Regions from separate parts of the Homo sapiens genome. Here region 2 is linked to region 1. The links come from fine-mapping of genetic effects on gene expression. A gene starts in region 1. The other region holds a variant in brackets. All regions are shown on one strand. Distances are from middle to middle.

What was found. PIP is the estimated chance that this variant, and not a neighbour inherited with it, causes the effect.
Region 2: its variant is fine-mapped to the expression of LETM1 in prefrontal cortex (BrainSeq, PIP 0.95).

What each region holds. Positions count from the first base shown.
Region 1 is chr4:1,850,355-1,861,661 of GRCh38, reverse strand. It overlaps LETM1 (leucine zipper and EF-hand containing transmembrane protein 1), which reads left to right and starts at 5,506. Exons shown (of 14, transcript NM_012318.3): 1 at 5,506-5,793. The coding sequence starts at 5,712. RefSeq lists enhancers at 3,625-4,420, 5,090-5,159, 5,797-6,298 and silencers at 4,690-4,909, 5,310-5,869, 5,880-6,069, 6,864-7,040.
Region 2 is chr4:2,273,139-2,284,445 of GRCh38, reverse strand. It overlaps ZFYVE28 (zinc finger FYVE-type containing 28), which reads left to right. Exons shown (of 13, transcript NM_020972.3): 9 at 10,230-10,384; 10 at 11,157-11,273. Among named protein-coding and RNA genes, the nearest start is that of MXD4, 17 kb to the right of the region's middle. RefSeq lists enhancers at 2,061-2,120, 2,889-3,388, 3,389-3,890. The variant G/AG (reference allele first, on the strand shown) is at 6,227.

The sequences.
Region 1 (11,307 bases):
TGACAGAGACTCTGTCTCAAAAAATAAAAAACAAAAAGCAAATCTAGGTGCAGCAAACCACCGTGGCGCACGTTTACCTACGTAACAAACTTGCACATTCTGCACATGCATCCTGGAACTTAAAGTACAATAAAATTAAAAAAGAAAAGAAAATAAAAGAAAATATATGTGCAGAAGGTGGAGCCCAGCCAGAGCACCAGTGTGCAGCACCCCACTGAACTGGGGACAGTAGCACAGCTGGAATCTGTGGGGAAGGCCCTGGAGAGGAAAGTGTTTGCAGGGAAGCCTGAGATGTCCCACTGTCCTTGGCTGAGGAGTGGGCTGCACCTGCTCAGGATGAGGCCACCTGGACTTAACAGGAAGCAACTGCCATAGGAATTCTGGCCCAGCCTGCATGGAGAGACCTCATTCTAACCTCATCAATGTCCCTCATGAATGCTTTGGTACCTGGCTCCAAACCCCTCTCAGCCCACAGGCTTGGTATGCAGCTGAGACACCAGGACCCATGCCCTGGGAACTGGGACTGTGTCCTAGAGCAAATTCTCTAGGCACATCCTGTCTTAGTTATCTATTGCTGCATAATGGACTACCCTCAGTTCTTCCCCATGTGGGTCTCTACAGGCTATCTGAGTGTCCTCATGACCTGGCAGCTGGCTGTTCCCAGAGTGGAAATCCAAAAGGGAGCAGGGAGCCTGTAATCCCAGCATTTTGGGAGGCCGAGGTAGGTGGATTGCTTGAGCCCAAGAGTTCAAGACCAGCCTGGACAATGTGGCGAGACCCCATCTCTACAAAAAAATACATAAATTAGCCAGGCATGGTGGCGTGTGCTTATAGTCCTAGGTACTCTAGAGGCTAAGGTGGGAGGATCCCTTGAGCCCGGGAGGTGGAGGCTGCAGTGAGCTATGATTTTGCACCACTGCACTTCAGCCTGGGCAACAGAGCGAGACCCTGTCTAAAAAAAAAATATATATATATATATATATATATATATATACACACATATATATACATATACATATATATACATATATATATACACACACATATATATACACACATACACATATATATAGTGGGTTCCATTGATTCAAATAAAAAAATTTTTTAAAAATTAAATAAAACAACAACAACAAATAACAAATTTAGGTCAAGCATGGTGGCTCTTGCCTATAATCCCAGCACTTTGGGAAGCTGAGGCAGGAGGCTCACTTGAGGCCAGGAATTCAAGAACACCCTGGGCAACATAGTGAGACCCTGTCTCTACAAAAAATTAAATAATTAGCCAGGCATGGTGGCACATGCTTGTGGTCCCAGCTACTCAAGGAGGCTGAGGCAGGAAGATCGCTTGAGCCCAGAGGTCAAGGCTGTAGTGAGCCGTGATCATACCACTGCACCCCAGACTGGGCAACAGAGTGAGGCCCTATTTCAATTAAAAAAAAAATCCAAATGCATAGCCCTCCCATGTCCCAGCCCAAAGCCACCACTTTTTTTTTTTTTTTTTTGAGACGTAGTCTAGCTATGTCTCAAAAAATGCAATGTAGTGTAGTGTACACTGGAGTGTAGTGGCGTGATCTCGGCTCACTGCAACGTCCATCTCCAGGGTTCAAGTGATTCTCCTGCCTCAGCCTGTCAAGCAGCTGGGATTACCGGCATGTGCCACCACGCCCAGCTAATTTTTGTATTTTTAGTAGAGACGGGGTTTCACCATGTTGGCCGGGATGGTCTCGATCTCCTGACCTCGTGATCTGCCCACCTCAGCCTTCCAAAATGCTGGGATTACAGGTGCGAGCCACTGTGCTTGGCCCAAAACCACCACTTTTATCTGCAGGTGGTTCCTCAGTGGGGTGAGAGGAGGCTGGAGGCTGGAGGCTGACCTCCACTTCTCCTGCTGCATGTACCTGGCTAAAGCTTCTCCCAGCTGCAAGGTGACCTGGTATCCAAGGTTTTTCTCCTGGGCTGTCACCCTAGCCCCTGCCATCACCAGTAAGTGCAAGCACCCTGTGTGGAGCATCCCACTTTCGTCAGCTTACTTGTTCTGGTACCTGGCTCCAAACCCCTCTCAGCCCACAGGCCAGTGATCCTGCTATCTTCTGCTGTCTCCCACTGCCCCCTCCTGTTCTTCCCTTTCCTTCTCCCCAGTTTCAATTCCTGGGACAAGCCTCATAGTCTCTTGCAAACATCCTTGTCTCTCTTCCTTCATCATACTTCCCAGCAAATCCCCAATCTGGGCAAATGCAACTCTGGCTGCTTTTCACCAGAGCATGGGTCAAGTGCAGCACACAACCCTTCTAAGTCTTCCTCTAGTTCGCTAACTGGTTCCCTAAGCTCCCTAACTAGATCCCTAACTTCCTCCCTAACTAGATCCCTAGCCCCCCTTCCCTAACTAGATCCCTAAACCCCCCAACTAGGTCCCAACCCCAACTAGGTCCCTAAGCTGCCTGACTAGTCCCTAGCCCCCTCCCTAACTAGATCCCTAACCGCCCTCCCTAACGGGATCCCTAACCTCCCTAACTGGGGCCCGTGTGCTGCCTGGGCTTCCTGCCCTGTTTCTCTACTGTCACTTGTATATACACCGAGTGACTATGGAAGGTTATATGTGATTTGTGAGGAACATAGGGAGAAGGAAAAGGAAGTTTCCCCAACCAAAAAAAAAAAAAGAAGAGAAAAAGGCTAAAAACAGTGCTTGCTATTAAACCACTGCGCCATGGTTCTGTGCCCTTGTTCTGCTGCATATGGAGATGTGGGACTGGAAGGCCTCATTCCAGCCTTAAGGGTGCACAGTCAGCTGGCTGGATGCCAGATTTCTACTTATTTCTTTTGACCTATTTTTTTTTTTTTTTTTTGCGACAGTCTCGCTCTGTCACCAGGCTGAAGTGCAGTGGCACAATCTTGGCTCACTGTAACCTCTGACTCCCTGGTTCAAGCAGTTCTCCTGCCTCAGCCTCCCGAGTAGCTGGGATTACAGGCATGCACCATAATGCCCAGCTAATTTTTGTATTTTTAGTAGACAGGGTTTCACCATGTTGGCCAAGCTGGTCTCGATCTCCTGACCCCGTGATCAGCCCGCCTCGGCCTCCCAAAGTGCTGGGATTACAGGTGTGAGTTACTGCGCCTGATCACAGCTATTTTAATTGTTGAAAATTTATCTAAGATCCCACCCTGCCTGGGCTGCACGAGCATCGCAGACAGCACCTGCCTGTGTCAGTCCTGCTGTTGGCTCTCCGCTGCCAGGCTTTCCTTGTTCTGGTCCAGGGATGGTGGGTCATCCCAACTGCAGGCGAGGGTATGTTCCACATTTCCTCACACCCAGCACTTTGGGCAGGGTGGAGACTGCGGGGAGGGCTTCCCTCCTCTTTCAGTGTCATTCAAAGTCCTGTAAACAGGCACTAGCACAGATGGGGCAGTCACCACCTCCTGCCTGGCCTTGCCGGGACACCTGGGACCCCACAGCATTAACGAGAGGAGCACTGTTTCTTGCACCCTCTCCGGGGTCACCCTCCCTAGCCAGCATCGGGCAGGGTCATCTGGTGCTCAGAACCAATGTCCAGACCAGGACTAGGACATACAGTCCTACAGCTGGGCCATAAAAAGTCCTACAGCTGAGCCATAAAAAGTCCTACAGCTGGGCCATAAAAAGTCCAGTTCTTTCTGACCCTGACCAACTGTCCACTCCAGCTCAGGTCCAACCCTGGGTGGGGAGGCAAGGACTATCCTTCTGTATCCCCCTCTTGCCTCCTGGGGGATGGGTGGAAAAGGGGCCCCTTCATGTCTGTTGGCAGCACAGGCCTAGGTTCAGGCCTAGTTGTGCTTAAACTCTGTCTGCATTTGATGTCTGCAGTGCCCACTGACCGGTGTGGACACAGGGACTTACAGACGGCTTCAAAGTGCCCTGCACTAAACAATGCCCCCTTCTCCCACTGAGATGGGGAATTCAAGCCCATCCAGGCCCAGTACCTGGCAGTTCCTGATGGGGAAAACCACCCAGGCAAGCAGGCTACGTTTTCCTGACGGGTGAGGACCGACTGCATGGACAGCAGGGGCAGAGGGGACCCTGGGGAGGGAGCCTCCTAGGGAGATGTGCCATTCAACCAGCCTCTCAAGACTGGGGAGCTGGCTGGCATCAGGCGTTTCACACCCCATGCGCTCCAGGGAACAGAGATGCTGAGTGTGCACTACAAGACCCTCCCCAGGCGGTGCCCTGAGGTGCCGCGGAGAAGCAGGAGGAGGCAGGTTACATCCCTGAACAAGACAGAGGGCAGGGCAAGTGCTGTGCTGGGGATCTCCTAGCTGGAGATCTCCACCAGCTGGGCCCCCAGCGCCGCAGGTCCCCATTTTTCTCCCTGCCTGCTTTCTCTGCCCCAACTCAGGGATCCTCATCTTAGGGAAGGAAGGGGAAGGTGGAGCTCAGAGGTCACGGTCTGCTGGGAGGCTGCACGGTCTCTCTCCCCTGGACTGGTCAGGGCCGGCTATTAAACTGGGCTGGGGGGAGGCTCCTGGGAGACGGCGCATGAGCGGTCCGCGAGCCCAGCCCAGCTCTGGCGGGAATTCTGGAGACTTCGAGCCAGGTCCTTGGCGTCCTGGGCTTCGGCTGTTCCTTCTTGGACTGGGAAGTGGAGCGGACAGGGTATGGCCCAGGTTAGGAAGTCTGGCGCTCTTGCGGCGCGCGGGACCCCAGGGGCTGCTTAGGCCAGAGCGAAACGAGGGGTCCCCCCGCGCCAACGCAGGACCCATATCTACCCCTCCCGCTCAGACGGGAGGACGCGGTGTGCCGGGATGGGGGGCCGCTATGCTGGCTGCGCCGCCACCCGGCCTAGTGCCCTCGCCTCCAGGGGCCGGCATGGCCCTGTCCTTCGGGGCGGGACCCTGCGCTCCCGTCCCCCCAGTGGTGACGGGGACTCCCGACGCCGAGCAGCGCCGTATCTGGGGAGCGCCGCCCGGTACGCAGGGAAGAGGCACTCAGAGCTGCGCGCGCCAGAGTGCAGACCGCCGAGGGCAGAGCCACAGAGCAGGGGGGCCGGCGAGGGACCGCGGCCGAGGGCGTCGAGGGCGCCCCTCCATCCCCAGCGTCCCCTGACTTGCCCTTGGAGCCCCAAGCTCCCAGGAGCCGTTTTCTACTCGTGGGTGCAGGACTTAGTCCCAGAAAAGTTCCGGACACACGCGCTGCTGCCGCCGCCCGGAGACGAAAAGACACTCCCCGCGCAAGCGCGGCCGACTCCCTCAGCTCCTGCGGCCGCCACGCTGCGAGCCCCGGCGTCCACGGTACGACGGGAACCAGGATGCAGCGAGCCCCAGGAGCCAGCCGCCCCGGTGCACGCCGGGACCGGTAGTCCGCGCCTCAGGGTAGTCCGCCGCTCCGGTGCACGCCGGGATCGGTAGTCCGCACCCCAGCGTGCAGGCCGTCCCGGTGCACGCCGGAACCGGTAGTCCGCGGTGGCGCGGTCCGCCCCTCACCTGGCCAGCGGCGGGCGCTGAGGGGCCCAATGGGAGCCGCGGCCTGGCCGCCCCGCCCCGCGCCTCCGGACGTCTGTGCCGGGACAAGGCCGCCGCTGGTGCCGGGTCCTTGAGGAGAGCGCCTCCCGTCCGAGGCCAGCCGCCTCTGTCAGCCGTCCGCGCGGGCCGGGTCTGAAGCGCCGCCGGGACGGCGAAGAGCCGCGGCCGCCGCGGAGAAGGAGGCAGCGCAGGAGGCCGGAGCGGCCGCCGCGCCCGAGCACATGGCGTCCATCTTACTGAGGAGCTGCCGCGGCCGGGCGCCCGCCCGCCTCCCGCCGCCGCCTCGGTACACCGTCCCGCGGGGTAAGCGGCGGGCACCCCAGGGCGGGGCCGGCTCCCGGCTGGTGGGTCGGGAGCGCGGACGACCCGCGGGTTCGGGCTGGTTGTCACGGCGATGCGGGGAGCCCGGTGGTCCCGGCCTCCGGAGCCCCTGCGGGACCGTGGGGCCCCGGGTCTCGTCGCGGGCTGGGCCGCCAGCGCCGGGCGGAGCCGCTGGGCCTCTGCCGTGTGTTGTGACCTTAGGCGGCCGGGTCCCCCGGGTCACTGCCTCAGAGACAGTGGGAAAATTCTGAAGGGCTGGGCAGCCCTGGCGCGCCCTGCGCGAGTAAGCTTGGTGGAACGTGTCCACGCACGAGGACGGCCGTGCCCTTTGGTCACGTTTGGGGTCCCGGAGACGAGACTGGGTGGGCAGGGCAGACACCGGCGAGCAGGACCTGCTGGGCTGCAGGAGCCTTCCTGGTCCGTCACTGATGAGGTGATGCCAGCACCTACAAACCCCTGTGGTGTGATTAGGCCGCGACCGGCACCCGGGGAACACGGGGACTCCGGAGCCGCTGAGGGTCCTCAGGGTGCGTGGCTTTAGCCCCCCTAGCCTCAGGTGCTGTCTGGAGTGAATGCTGTCCCAGGGTGTGCCCACCTCCTCTCTCTCTCTAATTAACCAACTTATTTGAGTCTATGTCCTTATTTGTAAAATTGGAATAAACATAAAACTTGCTAAGAGGGACTCAAGTAAAATAATTAGTGCAGTGGTGCGATCATACTCACTGCACCTCAAACTCCTGGGCTCAAGCTATCCTTCTGCCTCAGCCTCCCAAGTTGTTAGTTGTGCCACACAACACCCAGCTAATTTTTTTTTTTGTAGTTTTTTTGTAGAGACAGGGTCTTGGTATGTTGCCCAGCCTGGTCTTGAACTCCAAGGCTCAACTGATCCTCCTGCTTTGGCCTCCCAAAGTGCTGGGATTACAGGAGCCACCATGCCCAGGCACCCAGCTTCAATATTCTTGTCTCTGTTCCCCACCCCCAAAGAGATAGATTGAAGTTGCCCTGAATGTATCCTCCCAATTCTTGTTTTTTTTTGTTTGTTTGTTTGTTTGTTTTTAAAGACAGAGTCTCAATCTGTTGCTCAGGCTAGAGTGCAGTGGTGTGATCTTGGCTCACTGCAACCTCCACCTCCTGGGTTCAAGTGATTCTCTTACCTCAGCCTGCCGAGTTGCTGGAATTATAGGCACCCGCCATCACGACTGGCTAATTTTTGTATTTTTAGTAGAGACTGTTTTCTCCGTCTTGGCCAGGCGGGTCTCGAACTCCTGACCTCAGGTGATCCACCCACCTCGGCCTCCCAAAGTGCTGGGATTACAGGCGTGAGCCACCGCGCCCGGCCCCCAATTCTTGTAATTTTTTTTTTTTTTTTTTGAAATGGAGTCTCGCTCTGTCATCCAGGCTGGAGTGCAGTGGCATGATCTCGGCTCACTGCAACCTCTGCCTTCCAGGTTCAAGCGATTCTCCTGCCTCAGCCTCCTGAGTAGCTGGGATTACAGGCGCACACCCTCATGCCTGGCTAATTTTTGTATTTTTAGTAGAGATGGGGTTTCACCATGTTGGTCAGGCCGGTCTTGAACTCCTGACCTCGTGATCCACCCACCTCAGCCTCCCAAAGTGCTGGGATTACAGGCGTGAGCCACCTCGCCTGGCCAATTCTTGTAATTTTTACAATAATGGCTGGTTAGCCACTGAAACTTTTGGAGTGGTGAGAGGATGTTGAGTGGTGGAACTGCACAGTCTGAAGGTGGAGCTCAGCATGTGGTCTTTCCAGTTGCTGTGTTAGATGTTAGAGCTCTCTCTGGACCTCTTGATGGTGATAAAAGTACTTTTAACACTTCGTGCTTATTATCAGATTTTTGATAAATAATAATAATAATTAGCTTTTTATGTGCGATTCTGTCATTTCAGGAACACAAATGTCTTCTGTAGTTACTACTGTGCTTTGTGACAGGGACACTGGCAGGTCTGCTGTAGAAACAGTAGGGATTTCAGAGCCAGCGAGACCCAGGGCTGGACTGTGGAGGAGGTCCCTGAACTGATGAGTGATACACCGAGTGGAGTGCTGCAGGCCCCTGCTATTAACATCTTAGATGAGTAGGGTTCGTTGTCACAGTTAATGAACTGACCTTGATCTGTTACTGTTCACTAAAGTCCATAACATATTCAGATTTTCTTTACTCTCCCGTTCTCCATTCTGAGGTCCTTTTTCTGTCCCAGGACCCATCTGTACCACCCTTCTTGATTGCCTCTCAGGCTTTCCTTGTCTGCAGTGACCTTGACAGCTTTGAGGAGTACTGCCCAGGTGGAGTGTAGGGTGCTGCTCTACTGGTATTTCTTGATGTTTCCTCATAATTAAGCTGGGAAAGATGGTTTTTCAGGAGGAAGACCACAGAGGTGAAGCATCCTTATCATATCCCGCCGAGGCTCCATGCTGTCCAAATGATTTGTCACTGTTGATGTTGACCTTGATCAGTAGGCTGAAGTGGTGTTTGTCAGGTTTTTCACTGCCCAGTTACTCTTGTCCCACCTCCCCATTTGTCCTTTTTGGGAGGAAGTCGCTTTACGAGCAGAAGCAGGGCTGACTCCAAGGGCTGTGTGGGAGAGGGGGCCTCTGGCCTGAGCCGCCTGGGGACAACAGTGAGGGCTGTGTGGGAGAGGTGGCCTCTGGCCTGAGCCGCCTGGGGACAACAGTGCCATTTGTTGAAACTGGGGAGGACTTGGGGAGGAGCAGAATGAGGAGGGGCGCTAGTTGAGAGTTCTTGGAGGTGTGGACTGTGCCGTGCCCATCAGACCTGTGGGGCGTGTGTATTCAAGTCAGGGAAGAGATTGCCTGGGGAGGAGGTGGAGGTCAGGTAGGGAGGCTCTCCCAGGAGTGGCAAGGGTGAAGCCAGGTGAAGAAAGGTTTGTTTGTTCTTTGACCTGATCCTGGCACCAGCACTGAGGGCTGAGAACCCTGGAAGTTTCCTGAATGATGGGAGTGTCTTTTTTCATTTGTTTGTATTTTGAGACAGGGTCTTGCTCTGTCACCCAGGCTGGAGTGCAGTAGCTTGATCATGGCTCACCACAGCCTCCAAGCGATCCTCCTGCCAGCTGATGTTTTAACATTTTTGTAGACAGGGTCTCTGTTGCTCAGGCTTAACTCCTGAGCTCAACAGCGATCCACCTGCCTTGGCCTCCCAAAGTGCTAGGATTACAGGCGTGAGTTTGGGAGTGTCTTCTGTTATTCGTTATCACTGCACCTGAGTTTATGCTGATGAGGTGACTCCAGGCAGGCCCTTAGATAGATTGAGGTGCTGGCCATGCTGTGATTAGAGGGTGGGAACTTCCTGCCCCTTCCAGGGAGGCGAGAGGGTTTGGAGATTTAGTTCAGTCCCCATGGCCAGTGGGCCAATACTGTAATCAGTCATGAAGCCTTGATGAGAACTTCTGGGTGAGGAGGCTGGTGAGGCTTCCCACTGGCGTCCACCTAGCTCCACAGGACAAAGGATCCTGTGCTCGGGACCTCCCTGGCCATGCTGTCTGGTTGTTCCTAGGTACCAGGTACCCTTTATAATAAACTGTGACAGTAAGTAGAGCCCATTGCTGACATCTGAGTCATTCTTGTGAATGATCAAAACCAAGGCGGTCATGGGAACCCTCAAATGTGTGGTCAGCTGAAGTTGGGTAAGCCTGGGCACATGGAGTGGGGGCAGTCTTGTGGGACTGAGCCCGTACCCTGTGAGGTCTGCACTAACTCTGGGTAGTGTCAGTATGGAATTAAATTGTTGGACTCCCAGTTGGAGAATTCGTTGGTGTTGGAAAAAAGAACAGAAGGGCTCCCAGCAGGGCCTGGGCACAGATGACACCTGTGCTCGTGAGGGACGTGGAGCAATGATCCCCATCACCCCGAACGGCCTTGACTGGGGGTTCCTTGGAGAGCTGGGGACAGAAGCCGTCAGAACAGGTTTTGGGGAGAGCCTAGTAAGGGAGCCAGTGGGACAGGCAGTGTTAGAGAGAAGGTAGGGTCACTGGGGGACAGATCAGGGAACTCTGGGAGACCTGCCAGCCTGCCTGCTTGCCGGGCGGAGCCCTTGAGGCACAGGAGCTGGCCGGGGCAGGGGTGGAGGGGCTGAAGGTGCCATGGTGTGGGGAGGATAGCGGAGAATGCGCTGGGCCCTCTTCATGTGGAGAAAGGTGGGGGCCAAAGCTAGTCTCAGCTGGAGTGAGAAGGGCCTTGGCATGCTCACGTGTGCTGTGCTTTGAATTTTAACTTAAAATGTAACTTGCTGTGTATGAGAACATAGCCAACATTTTCCCCTTAACCCAGCTCCCAGTTCACAGACCGGACTGTTACAAGCCCTAAATGTGGCACGTAGTAGGAATTTCCTTCCCCACAGAACCAGGAGAGTTGCCTCCTGTTAAATGAGGTGAAGTGACGTATCGGTCCACTAGGAGCAGGGTCAGTGCCTGCCCTCCCCATCTTGTTCGTCCTCTCACGGTGGCTCTCGTTGCCGGCTGGAGTGAGCTCCCCCCATCTTAAAGCTGCACTTGCTGCTCCCTGGCTGTTGACTCATTGCAACCCCACTGCTTGGAGGTTCAAGGTCACTGGGCATCTCAGGGTGCTACCTGCTGGCTCCCGGCACCGCCTAGCCTCTGCACAGCCTGGCCTGGCACCTCCGTGGGCTGGTGCCTCTGGCCCTGCTGCTCCTATTCCTGTCTTGTTCCCAGCATGAAGTTTGATCACAATGGGCTCTGAATGTCAGTAATACGAATGAACTCTGACTTTATGCTTATAGGAACTAGAGCAAGTTAGGGAAAGCATCAAAAACATGTTGAAATCCTAAAAATGTGCTGTACACTTATCACTGTTGTTTATACAAGAAATGGCTTACTCTTGGTGTTTTTGTGGTTCTTCTCTTTTTTTTTTTTTTTTTGAGTGCAATGGCGCGATCTCAGCTCACTGCAACCTCTGCCTCCCGGAGGGTTCAGGTGATTATCCTGCCTCAGCCTCCCGAGTAGCTGGGATTACAGGCACCTGCCATCATGTCCGGCTAATTTTTTTTTATTTTTGTGGAGATGGGGTTTCACCATGTGGGCCAGGCTGGTCTTGAACTCCTGACCTCAGGTGATCCACCCGCCTCAGCCTCCCAAAGTGCTGGGATTACAGGCGTGAGCCACCATGCCCGGCCTGTGGTTCTAGTAATTCTTTTTTTTTTTTTTTTTTTTTCTGAGACAGAGTCTTGCTCTGTCGCCCAGGCTGCAGTTCAGTGGTGCGATCTCAGCTCACTGCAAGCTCCGCCTCCCGGGTTCACGTCTGTGCTGGGATTACAGGCGTGAGCCACTGCGCCCGGTCCGGTTGTAGTAATTCTTACAGCTCTTGCCCCTTGGGATCATTGCTTGCTCTATAGGGCTGTCTGCATAGAGGTCATGTTTCCACCAGAGCCAGCTGAAGTGAGTGGGGATGGTGCCACCGGTAGGAGTGCTCCCTCCCTAGGGCTGGCCTGCTTGGCTTCCCTC
Region 2 (11,307 bases), 420 kb before region 1:
TGTCCACCACTGTGCCCCGTCGCGCTCTCCTCCTCCCCATCATGGTCTTCAAAGCCCCAGGCGAGCCACGGTGGCCTATACCTGTAATCTCAGTACTTTGGGAGGCTGAGGTTGGAGGATCATGTGGGGCCCGGAGCTTGAGGTTACAGTGAGCCGTGGTCACGCCACTGTGCTCCAGCCTGGGCGACACGGCCTTTATCACGGTGGGAAATGGTCTCATTTCTGAACACTCATTTGCAGGCTGGCTGACTCCCTCCACTGCGTACACACGTGAATCCGGTCTTGTGTGGCCACATGCTCCACAGCGAGCCTGAGCTGTCGATTGATGTCAATGAATGTGGATGCGGGGGCTCCAAGAAAGAGAGCACCTGTGCTCTGTTCCTCAAACTCTTTTTCCCTCAAGTGTAGCCTACAGGGAATTGCGTTCTGTGGAGCATCCTCTGGGGGCACTGACCAACAGGCCAAGGTCCGAACTGTCCAGCCCTCCCAGTGGGCCTCTGCTTAGCCTCAACCTCTGCCTGGTCTCTCCCAGCATCACCAGGGGGTTCCCTACAGTCTGTCGGCTGCTTCCCACCTCTTGGCTTTCATTCAAGCTGTCCTCATGCTGCGCCTTCCAGGAACCCTCCCTGGCACTCCAGACCTCTCTCCAGCCTGAGTGAGGAGTCTCCCCTCTGACCTCCCACAACAACACCCTTGATGGTTCCTCTGTTACACTTTCCGTGTGTGATAATTAACTGTTCACCTATTGATCTCTGCCATCAAATCGTGAGCTCCTTAGGGCTGAACTGTGCAATTCCTGGATCATAGTTGGTGCTTAGTGCATGTTTGTAGGGCAGGTGGATGGATGGATGGATGGATGGATGGATGGGTGGATGGACGGTTGGATGGTTGGATGGATGGATGGATGGATGGACTGATGATTAGATGGATGGGTGGGTGGATGGATGGATGGCAAATGAATGAGTGGATGGGTGGATGGATGGGTGGGTGGATGGGTGGATGGATGAGTGGATGGGTGGATGGATGGGTGGGTGGATGGGTGGGTGCATGAGTGGATGGGTGGATGGATGATTGGATGGATGGATGGATGGATGGATGGATAAATGGATGGGTGGGTGGGTAGATGGGTGGGTGGATGAGTGGAAGATTGGATGATGGGTAGACGGATTGGTGGGTGGACAGGTGGGTACATGGGTGGATAGATGGATGGATGATTAGTTGGGTGGATGGATGGATGGATGCATGGATTGGTGGATGGGTAGATGAATGGATGGGTGGATGGATGGATAGGTAAATATATGGATGGGTAAATGGATGAGTGGGTGGGTGGGTGGATGGATGGATGACTTTTACAAGAAGCAGCCAGCCCACCATTTGCGTCAGGGCCCAAGGTGGCTCATTAGAATTGGTATGTGGTTGTACAAATGCCCGAGCTGCTAATTTTCCCACATCCAAGCACAATTAAACCTTGCCTCTGGAGCCTACCAGTCACTCTTGATGTTCTTTGTTTTTGTTTTTTATTTATTTTTCTTTAGAGATAGAGTCTTGCTATGTTACGCAGGCTAGCCTTGAATTCCTGGGCTCAGGGGATCCTCCTGCCTCAGCCTCCCCGTAGCTGGGACTACAGGCTGTTTTTCTCTTCATTAGCCTTTGCAAATGGTTTCAAGAGTTCAAAAATTAATGTATCTGATGTCATAATGAGAAACATACTGTGATGCTGTTAGTCTTTCCAAAGTTGGCATTCTCTTCTTTCACAGACTCCTAGAGGTTCAAGGTGGCAAAGTCCTGTCTTTCTGTTTGCATACTCACTTGCTAAATTTGCTGCATCAGATTCATTTGGGCTTTGCTATGGTCTTTCTTTTCCATAGTAATTGGAATTAAAATTATAAGTTCAGTAAACTTCCCTCTTCTGCTCTATCCAATTGCTGAATTCAGACGTGTTCCATGTTCCCAACATCTCAGAGGCTCCCCTCACCACTTTTCCCACCCCAATGATGACATCAGCCATTTATCCCCCCTGTGTGCTGTTCAAGAGGAGCACTTTGGAAACCTGGCCACTGTCCTGTGGCCTAACTGTGACACAGCTGAAGACACAGGCTGGGCAGCCTTTGGTATTGATGTGACTGTTTAGAATTGCACTGCCTTTCTTTACCAGAGAATGACATTTCATAGTAGTTCAAACCGAAGTGGGGCTGTTGCAGGGAGTTTTTGCTGCCTTCTGTAAGAGAGTGGCAGGAAGCAACATTCAGGCAGCCGGTGCGGGAGTGTCTGGCAGCTGCAGAAGGTGGCTGGACTTTTAGACATCCGGGTGAACATGCTGAAGTGACGTTGATCCACTGACTTGAGAACATCAGTGACAAGGGTTCAGACTCTGTGGTGAGACACAGGAAGCTGTTGGCAGGGCAGGTGCCCTTCACTCTTCTAGCCTCTGCTTCTCATGGCTCCCTGTCTTTCTGTGACTTGAGCTGTGGCTGTATCTCACCCGTACTGTTCCCTTCCTCACCACAGGGATGGACCCGCTGGGCACCAGCTCACTTCTCGGCTCTGTATTGTTAATGTGTGTGGCTCCCCCACTAGACTTGGCTTTTGGGGGACACATAGTGTCTGATCTACCCCTGAGGTCCTCCTCATGGCCCTACCCTGTCTGTTCAGCAACTGGCCACAGGGGATAAACACCCTTCCAAAGGCAGTGTTCCTGGGCCACTGGCATCCAAACAGTGCCCCCTGCTGTGGTTTGAATGTGTGCCCCAAAGTTCATGTGTTGGTAACTTAATCCCCACTGCAACAGCGTTGAGAGGGGGGACCTTAAAGAGGTGATGAGGTCATGAAGGCTTTGCCCTCCTGAGCGGATTGATGTTATTGCAAGAGTGGGTTTGTTATTGCTGCAGTGGGGTCCTTATAAAGGGTGAGCATGGCCCCCTTCCCCTCTCTCTTGCCCATGCGATGCCTTCCTCCATGTGGTGACATAGCAAGAAGGCCCTAGTCAGATGGGGCCCCTCCACCTTGGGCTTCCCAGCCTCCAGACTGTGAGCCAGAAACATGTCTGTTCATTATAAATTACCTAGACTGTGGTACTCTGTTATAGCAGCAGGAAGCAAAGGAAGACACCCATCCACATGGCCCCAGGAATGGCTGACCCAGAAGGACCCAGGCTCATGCTCTCGGTGAAATCCTGGGTTCTACCTCCCCACTCTGCTCTCTTGTTCCCTTTGGCCCTTCCAAGCCCAGCCGGTTCCCTTGGGCAGTACCTCATTGGTTTTTCTACCTGTGACATCTCTGTATGGGGCCCCTTGGCTCTCTCTGTCCACCCATTCCCCCTCCCACGCCACCAGAGCTTCCAGCCAACCAGGGCAGGGAGGCAGGAGAGGGCCTTTCCTGTGGCAAGTGAAGGGTGTCTGGGGTTGAGATGGCCATCAGCGATCTGACCTACCCGTGGGCAATCGGCCAGCCTTGGCCTGGCCTCGGTCTCAACCTGCTGGTAGAAGCCATTGTTCTTATGCCACACTCAACTCTCTGTTGAACGTCAGGGCCCTTCCCCTGATTTCTCATCTCCAGGGGTGCTTCAGTAGCAGGATGCTTGTCCAGATAGCCTTCCCAGCTTCAGGGTGTTGGTCCAAGGGGCTGGAGCTGCGGGGCTGAATACTTCCCATGGGCTTCTCCTTTCACAGGGAAACAAGTTCCTCGCCACAGGCAGGGCCCGAGGGTGCCATCTGCTGCCAGCAGGCACTTTCCTTTCTTCTTGAAATGGCATCTCTTCTGATCACAAAAGCAATACTTGATCCGCGATGAGACTTTAGAAAATGATAATTTACCTGTAATCTTACTACTCAAGTAAGTGTAAGATTAATGCCTTACCTTGAGTATCTTCCCCAGTGTGTCATTTATGTACATATGACATCTCTAATTTTTATTTTTATTATTTTATTTATTTTAAGAGACAGGGTCTTGCTCGTTGCCCAGGCTGGAGTGGAGTGCAGTGGTGTGATCACAGCTCACTGTACCCTTGAACTCCTGGGCTCAAGCGATCCTCCCACCTCAGCTTCCAGAGTAGCTGGTACTACAGGTGCACACCATCATGCCTGGCTAATTTTGGATTTTTTGTAGAGACAGAGGTCTTGTCATGTTGCCCAGACTGGTCTTGAACTCCTGGCCTCAAGTGATCCTCCCGCCTCAGCCTCCCAATAATTGTTGGGATCACAGGCATGAGCCACTACACCTCGCCTCTAATTTTTTAAATGCTACATTTTTCATTTCATATTTTAACATTTCCAGTGGACCATCCTTCTGGAGATTGTTTCACCATAGGGATATGACCTAATGTATTGAGTCAACCCACTGTTGATGGACATTTAGCTTATAAGCTATTTCTTGCATATGAGTTTGCTGGGCGATTACAAGAAAAACATTCTCTTCTGTTGTTTGTGAGATGTACAGCTCAGTAATTTGTGGTACATCCATGAGGCTGTACAGCCAATATCACTGTCTAATTCAAAACATTTTCATCACCCCATAAAGAAAAACCCTCCCCATCAGCAGTCACCATGTTCCCCTCCCCCTTCAGCTGTTGCGACCACGGTTCTGCTTTCTGCCCCTATGGGTTTCGCCTGTTCTAGACATTTCATGTGAATGGAATCAATCATACAGTATGTGATTTTTTTTTTTTTTTTTGAAGGAGTCTCACTCTGTTGTCAGGCTGGAGTGCAGTGGCATGATCTCGGCTCACTGCAAGCTCCGCCTCCCGGGTTCACGCCATTCTTCTGCCTCAGCCTCCTGAGTAGCTGGGACTACAGGCGCCCGCCACCATGCCTGGCTAATTTTTTTTGTATTTTTAGTAGAGACAGGGTTTCATCGTGTTAGCCAGGATGGTCTCGATCTCCTGACCTCGTGATCCGCCCACCTTGGCCTCCCAAAGTGCTGGGATTACAGGTGTGAGCCACTGCACCCGGCCAGTTTGTGATCTTTTGTGACTGGCTTCTTTCACTCAGCACGATGGGTGTGTTTTTGTTTTTGTTTTTTTAGACGGAGTCTCGCTCTGTCTTCAGGCTAGAGTGCAATGGCACGATCTTGGCTCACTGCAACCTCTGCCTCCTGGGTTCAAGCAATTCTCCTGCTCAGCTTCCCGGGTAGCTGGGATTACAGGCATGCGCCACCACACCCAGCTAATTTTTGTATTTTCAGTAGAGACGGGGTTTCACCAAGTTGGCCAGGCTGGTCTCGAGCTCCTGATGTCAAGTGATCCTCTCGCCTCGGCCTCCCACAGGGCTGGGATGACAATATGATGTGTTCAGTGTTCATCCACACAGTAGCATGTATAAGTGCTGCGTTCCTTTCTGTGGCTGAAAACTTATTCCATTATATAGATAGACATTTTGTCTATCCATTCAACTGTTTTCCAAAGTGTCTGTGCCATTTTATTTTTCCATAAGGAAGAGAGGAGGATTCCAGTTCCTTCACATCCTCACCTTCCTCACCACAACTTCATATTTTCTGGGTTTTTTTTTTTTGAGGGGGGGGGGAACATTCTAATCGTCCTAATAGATAAAATGGTATTTAATTGTAATTTTTTTGGCATTTCCTGACTGACAGTGATGTTGGGCATCTGTTCATGTGTTTATTAGCCATTTGTATATCTTCTTTGGAAAAATGTCTATTCAAATCCGTTTTCCATTTGTTCAGTAGTGTTTTTTTTTTTGGTCTTTTTGTTGTTGGATTGTAAAAATTCTTTCTATATTGCAGATACTATGTCCTTATCAGACACATGATTTGCAAAAATTATTCTGTGGGTTTTCTCTTCACTTTCTTGGTGGTGTCCTATGAAGCAGAAAGTCTTCAGTTTGATGAAGTCCAGTTATCTGTTTTCTCTTTTGTTGCCCATGCTTTAGGTGTCATGTCTAGGAAACTGTGGCCTAGCCTAACGCCACAAAGATTTACTCCAATGTTTTCTTTTAAGAATTTTAAGCCTGGGCGCCGTGGCTCACGCCTGTAATCCCAGCACTTTGGGAGGCTGAGGTGGGTGGATCACTTGAGTCCAGGAGTTCAAGACCAGCCTGGGCAACGTGGTGAAACCCCATCTCCGCTAAAAATGCAAAAATTAGCCGGGCAGTGTGGTGCACGCCTGTGGTCCCAGCTACTCAGGAGGCTGAGATGGGAGGCTCACTTGAGCCCAGGGAAGTCAAAGCTGCGGTAAGCCATGTGAGACACCATCTCAAAAAAAAAAAAAAAAAAA[G/AG]AGAGAATCTTTGAGTTGTAGCTCTGACATCTAGATATATGATTCATTTCGAGTGAATTTTTGTATGTGGTATAAGGTCAGAGTTCAGCTTCATCCTTTTGCATGTGTGTCTCCGGTTTTCCGGCAGCATTTGTTGAAAAGACTATTCTTTCCTGGTTGGTCTTGGCACCCTTGCTGAGAATCCACTGCCCATAAGCATATGGGTTTCTTTGCGGACTCTCGGTCTCATTGGTCTGTATGTCGGTCCTATGCTGCTGCTGCACAGTCTTGATTCCTGCTCTTTCATGCCACATTGCAAATCACAAGTGTGAGTCCTCCAACTTGTTTTTTTTCTTTTGGCTATTCTGGGTCCCTCGAGTCACTCCCACATTAATTTTAGGATCATATTGTCCATTTTTGCAAGAAAAAAAGGCAGTTGGCACTTTCGTATGGATTGCATTGAATCTGTAGATCGATTTGGGGAGTCATGCCGTCTCAACAATATTGTCTTCCGACCTGTGAACACGAGATGTCTTCCCATTTATGTAGGTCTTCTAATATTTTTCAACAATGTTTTGTTGTTTTCAGTGTATGATTCTTGTACTTCTTTTGTTAAATTTATTCTAAGTATTTTAATCTTTTTTATGCTATTGTAAAGGGCTAAGGATTGTTTTCTTCATTTCACTTTCAGTTTATTGCTACCATATCTAAACACAAATGATCTTTTTTTTAATTTTTATTTTATTTATTTATATTTTTTTGAGATGGTGTCTCACTCTGTCACCCAGGCTGGAGTGCAGTGGCACGATCTCAGCTCAGTGCAACCTCCGCCTCCCGGGTTCAAGCAATTCTCCTGCCTCAGCCTCCCGAGTAGCTGGGACTACAGGCACACGCCGCCACGCCCGGCTAATTTTTTGTATTTTATTAGAGACGGGGTTTCACCGTGTTGCCCAGGCTGGTCTCGAACTCCTGAACTCAGGCAGTCCGCCTGCCTCGGCCTCCCAAAGTGCTAGGATTACAGGCATGAGCCACCACGCCCGGCGTGATCTTTAAAAAAAAGCCTTTATTGATATGTAACATACATACCACAAAATTCACCTTTCTAAATCACACAGTTCAGTGGTTTTGGGCAATAATACCCCTGAGCCTTCTGTGTCGGGCGCCACGCCAATCCGGCCTTCTGCCATGTACTTGCCGCCTCCGTTCCCTTGCCTCTGCTCTCTCCCTGCCCCAATTCTTTTTTTTTTATATTTTTAATTTTTGTAAAATATATGTAGCATAAAGTTTACTATTTAGCCCTTCCTAAGCGTACAATTTCGTGGCATTGAACACACTCAGTGCCGTGCAACTGTCACCAACATCATCTCCGCAACGTCCTCATCTTCCCAAACTGAAACTGTTTCCCCATCACTCACTCCCCCCGACTCCCCGCCCTCTGCCCACCCTGGCGCCCACCGTTCTACCTTCCATCTGTATGAACGTGACGGCTCTCAGGACCTCGTGTCGGAGACTCAAGCAGGACGCATCCTTTGGTAGCTGGGTTGTTTCACTCAGCATGATCTTGCCAACATTCATCCGTGGCTGTAGCCTAGATCCGAATTTCCTTCCTTTTTAAGGCTGAATAATATTCTGTTGTATGGGTGGACCACATTTGGTTTATCCACGCCTCTGCCAACAGACACCTGAGTTGCTGCCGTCTCTTGGCCGCTATGAACGTGGGCGTGCAAGTATCTGTCCGAGTCCCAAATTTCAGTTCCTTTGGGTAAGGCTCTGATGAGGCTGGGGGTACCGAGTGGAAGCTGACATCCTGGACAGTGAAGGCCCCTCCCTTATTCAGCTCCCAGGGCAGAGGGCAGCAAGGCCCACACCCCCAAGCTGAAGGTAGGGGCTTCATCTGTGGAACCCTGACCACCTGGGAGGGGAGAGCCACGGAGCATTGTTGGGGTCCCAGCAGAGGATCCCGTCCCATGGGCCCAGGCCCCCTAAGCCTCCTACCGTGCTCCCACGTTCCGGCAAATATTCAGCTATGTTAGCACATTGCCATGAGGGAGGGGGCCCCGTGCAGCTCCAGGGACGCTTCCAGCCTCCTCCCCCGCTCTGCCGCAGCCCGCTGCCCTGAATTCTCACGTGCGCCACGCCTCTGTGCTTCTGCAGGGTTTACGTCACGAGGCTGTGTCCCTAAATTAGATACCAGGCAGTTGTGCATGTTTCCCACGGTCTGTGAAAAGACTCACGCCACGTGGGATTCGTGCGCGTTGGCGGGGCTGTGGCTGGCTCGCCTCCGCCTCCGTGGCCTCTGCTGGTGGGCGATTAGATCACGGTGGGTCTTCCATTCCATTGCTGGCGGACTTGGGATCCTGCCCAGCGTTTCACTGGAATCCCCAGCACCGCGTCTAAGACCCTGCATCTCTGCAGACAGACGCAGATGCGCGTTTCCAGTGTATGCCGGCAACAGAGGCCACCGGGCTCCAGAGTGTAGACAGCCCTGGCTTTACTGAAACGGTGCGAACATTTTTTCCGAAGTGGTTGCACCAGCTGACGCTCCCACCAGCAAGGTGAAGGCTCCTGTGGTTGCACCCACACTGTTCTTATTTTTGCACAGGTCGACGAGGATCCCCGAACATTTGGGGCAAGGCTCGGCATGAGACACGGCCAAATAAATGAGCCAAGCCCTCCAAAAGAGGCCGTGCAGGATGCCAGTGGCAACTGAAAAAAATTATCACGAATATTTCTAGGTAGAGAAAAGATTTTGCATCCATGAAACGACAGTAACAGCAGTAAATTTAAAACTTGATAGCAGAAATTTAAACGTCAAGAGTAAAATTAGAAGAACGAGTTGGGGGAAATTTCCCAGAAAATGGGACAAAAAGATAGGAGATAAATTAGTTTAAAATGAGAGGGCCAGTGGGTGCACCCCTAGAGTTGGGCGAGGTGAACCTCCGGAGTTAGTACAGGCCCAGCTGTGAACGATTTATAGGGTCACCGTGGAACCCCTGAGTAGCAAATCTGATGAAAGCTGAGGACGCAGCTGCTGGGAAGATGGAGACCCCATGCACGGAGGGTCCCTCAGCCTCCAAGGGCATCCACGGACAGAGCCTGAGGTCTGGAAGTCAGAACCGATGCCCAGGGAGGCCAGCGAGGCCTGTGGGGTCTTGTGCAGAGGCCCCTGGAGGTCCCGGGCCCTGTTCTGACTCCAGGCAGGGAAGTGTAGGTGGGGGCGGGGGGATCCTGTATTCGTTTCTTGAGGCTGCTGTCCCCGCAAACTGGCCTAAGCCCTGGAAACTGTCTCGCAGTCGGAGGCCCGAAGTGCAAACTCTGGCAGAACCTCACTCCGTCTGCAGGCTCCAGGGCAGGCTCCTCTCGCCTCTCCCAGCTTCTGGGGACTCCAGGTGTTCCTTGGGTTGGGGCCGCGTCTCCGGTCTCAGCCTCCGTGGTCACATGGGCTCTCCTGCCCTCTGTGTCTGTGTCCTCTTCTGTCTCTTATAAGGACGTTTGTCTTTGGACTTATGACCTGTCCGGATCATTCAGGGCAATCTCTTCATCTCCAGATGCTTCACTTAATTGCTCCTGCTGAGACCCCTTTTCCAAATGAGGTCACGTTCACAGGCTTCAGGGGCTGGGGTGGGGAGAGATATTTTTGGGGGCTGCCTGACACTCAGGCCATTAGAAATGGTGTGAAAGGTGAGTTGACGCTTCCATAGGGGCAGTCGGTCGATATTAAGCCAGGAGTACAGCCTCAGTGGGTGAGTCGCCACCAGCTGTCAATTCCAGGAGGCCCAGCAGAAATCAAAGGCCCGGGACTGGCTCAGAGCCCTGTTGTACCACCTGGTATATGTGGTGAGCATGTTACACTGAGGACATTTTAGGTGAAGTTACAGGAAAGTTGTGTATCTGGGCAACAGATACACGCCTGTGGGGTGAGCGTCTGCGAGGACACAGACTTTTGTCTTGACCAGTGACCTTCGGGCTCCACGGCCCCTTATCATGCCCCACCCCACACACCGGTATCTCCTTCTCCATGCAGCAGCTCCACAGCTGGGTCCTGCTCCTCAGACAAGATGGGGCCAGAGGCGGCCCCAGCAGCCACGCATGCTGCCCCACAGGCCACAAGAGAGAAGATCCGGTCCAGGTTCCACGGCAGCCACGACCTCATCCACCGCCTGTTCGTCTGCATTTCAGGTGTCATGTCAGGGCCTGAGACCGGTGCATGGCTTGAGGACACACGGGCTGCGCTTTAGGGGAGGTCAGGCGGGGCGTGTACAACCTCCCCCTCACTTTCCTGTAAACAGCAGCCCACTCTGCCCCTAAGGAGCCAGCACTCCTGTTCATGGAGAAGGCTGGACTGACCCCACACAGGCAGGAGGAGGAGGGGAGCTGCGGGTGAGGGTGGGAGGCGTTTTCCTCCAGGGAGTGGCGGCGGGGGCAGTGGGGTGGGGGCAGAAGAGCCAGGCGCTAGGCATCACCTCTGGGCAGGGTCCACCCTGGGCTCCCAGCCACGTAGGCTGCTGGGGGGCTGTGCCTGCGAGGGGTGGACATGCTTTGCAGGTAGACACATTTGGATGCCTGAGTGGCTGTGACAGTCACAAGCACTGGCCTGGGGGTGGGCACAGTGCAGGGGCTCTGTAAGTGTCCCTCAGCGCGTAGCCTGGCCAGCTTAGTGGTGATGGCTGTGACCTGTGCATAAAAGGTGTGAATGTCAGCGGCAGACCGACTGTGGCGGGGCTGTCTGTCTGGTCGTCTCCCTTCCCCTGATCTCTCTCGACTCCCGAGTTTTTATTCTTGCAAGGGAATCCTCCCCCAAGGGGTTGGGCCTCCTCCCTCCCTGACTGATCTGAGAACACGCTGGCCTGGGCTGTGAGCTCTGGCTGGGTCTGCCCAGCCCGCAGCACCGACCTCCGCAGTTCCTTCCATCCGTCCTTCTGTCGTGGTTACTGTGGCCTTCCTTCCTCAGGTGTGGCTGACCAGCTGCAGACGAACTATGCCAGTGACCTGAGAAGTATTCTTAAAACACTGTTTGAGGTCATGGCCACCAAGCCTGAAACAGACGACAAGGAAAAGTTAAGGAAGGGTGAGTGCCCACTCAGGACGGGCTCTGAGGCCTG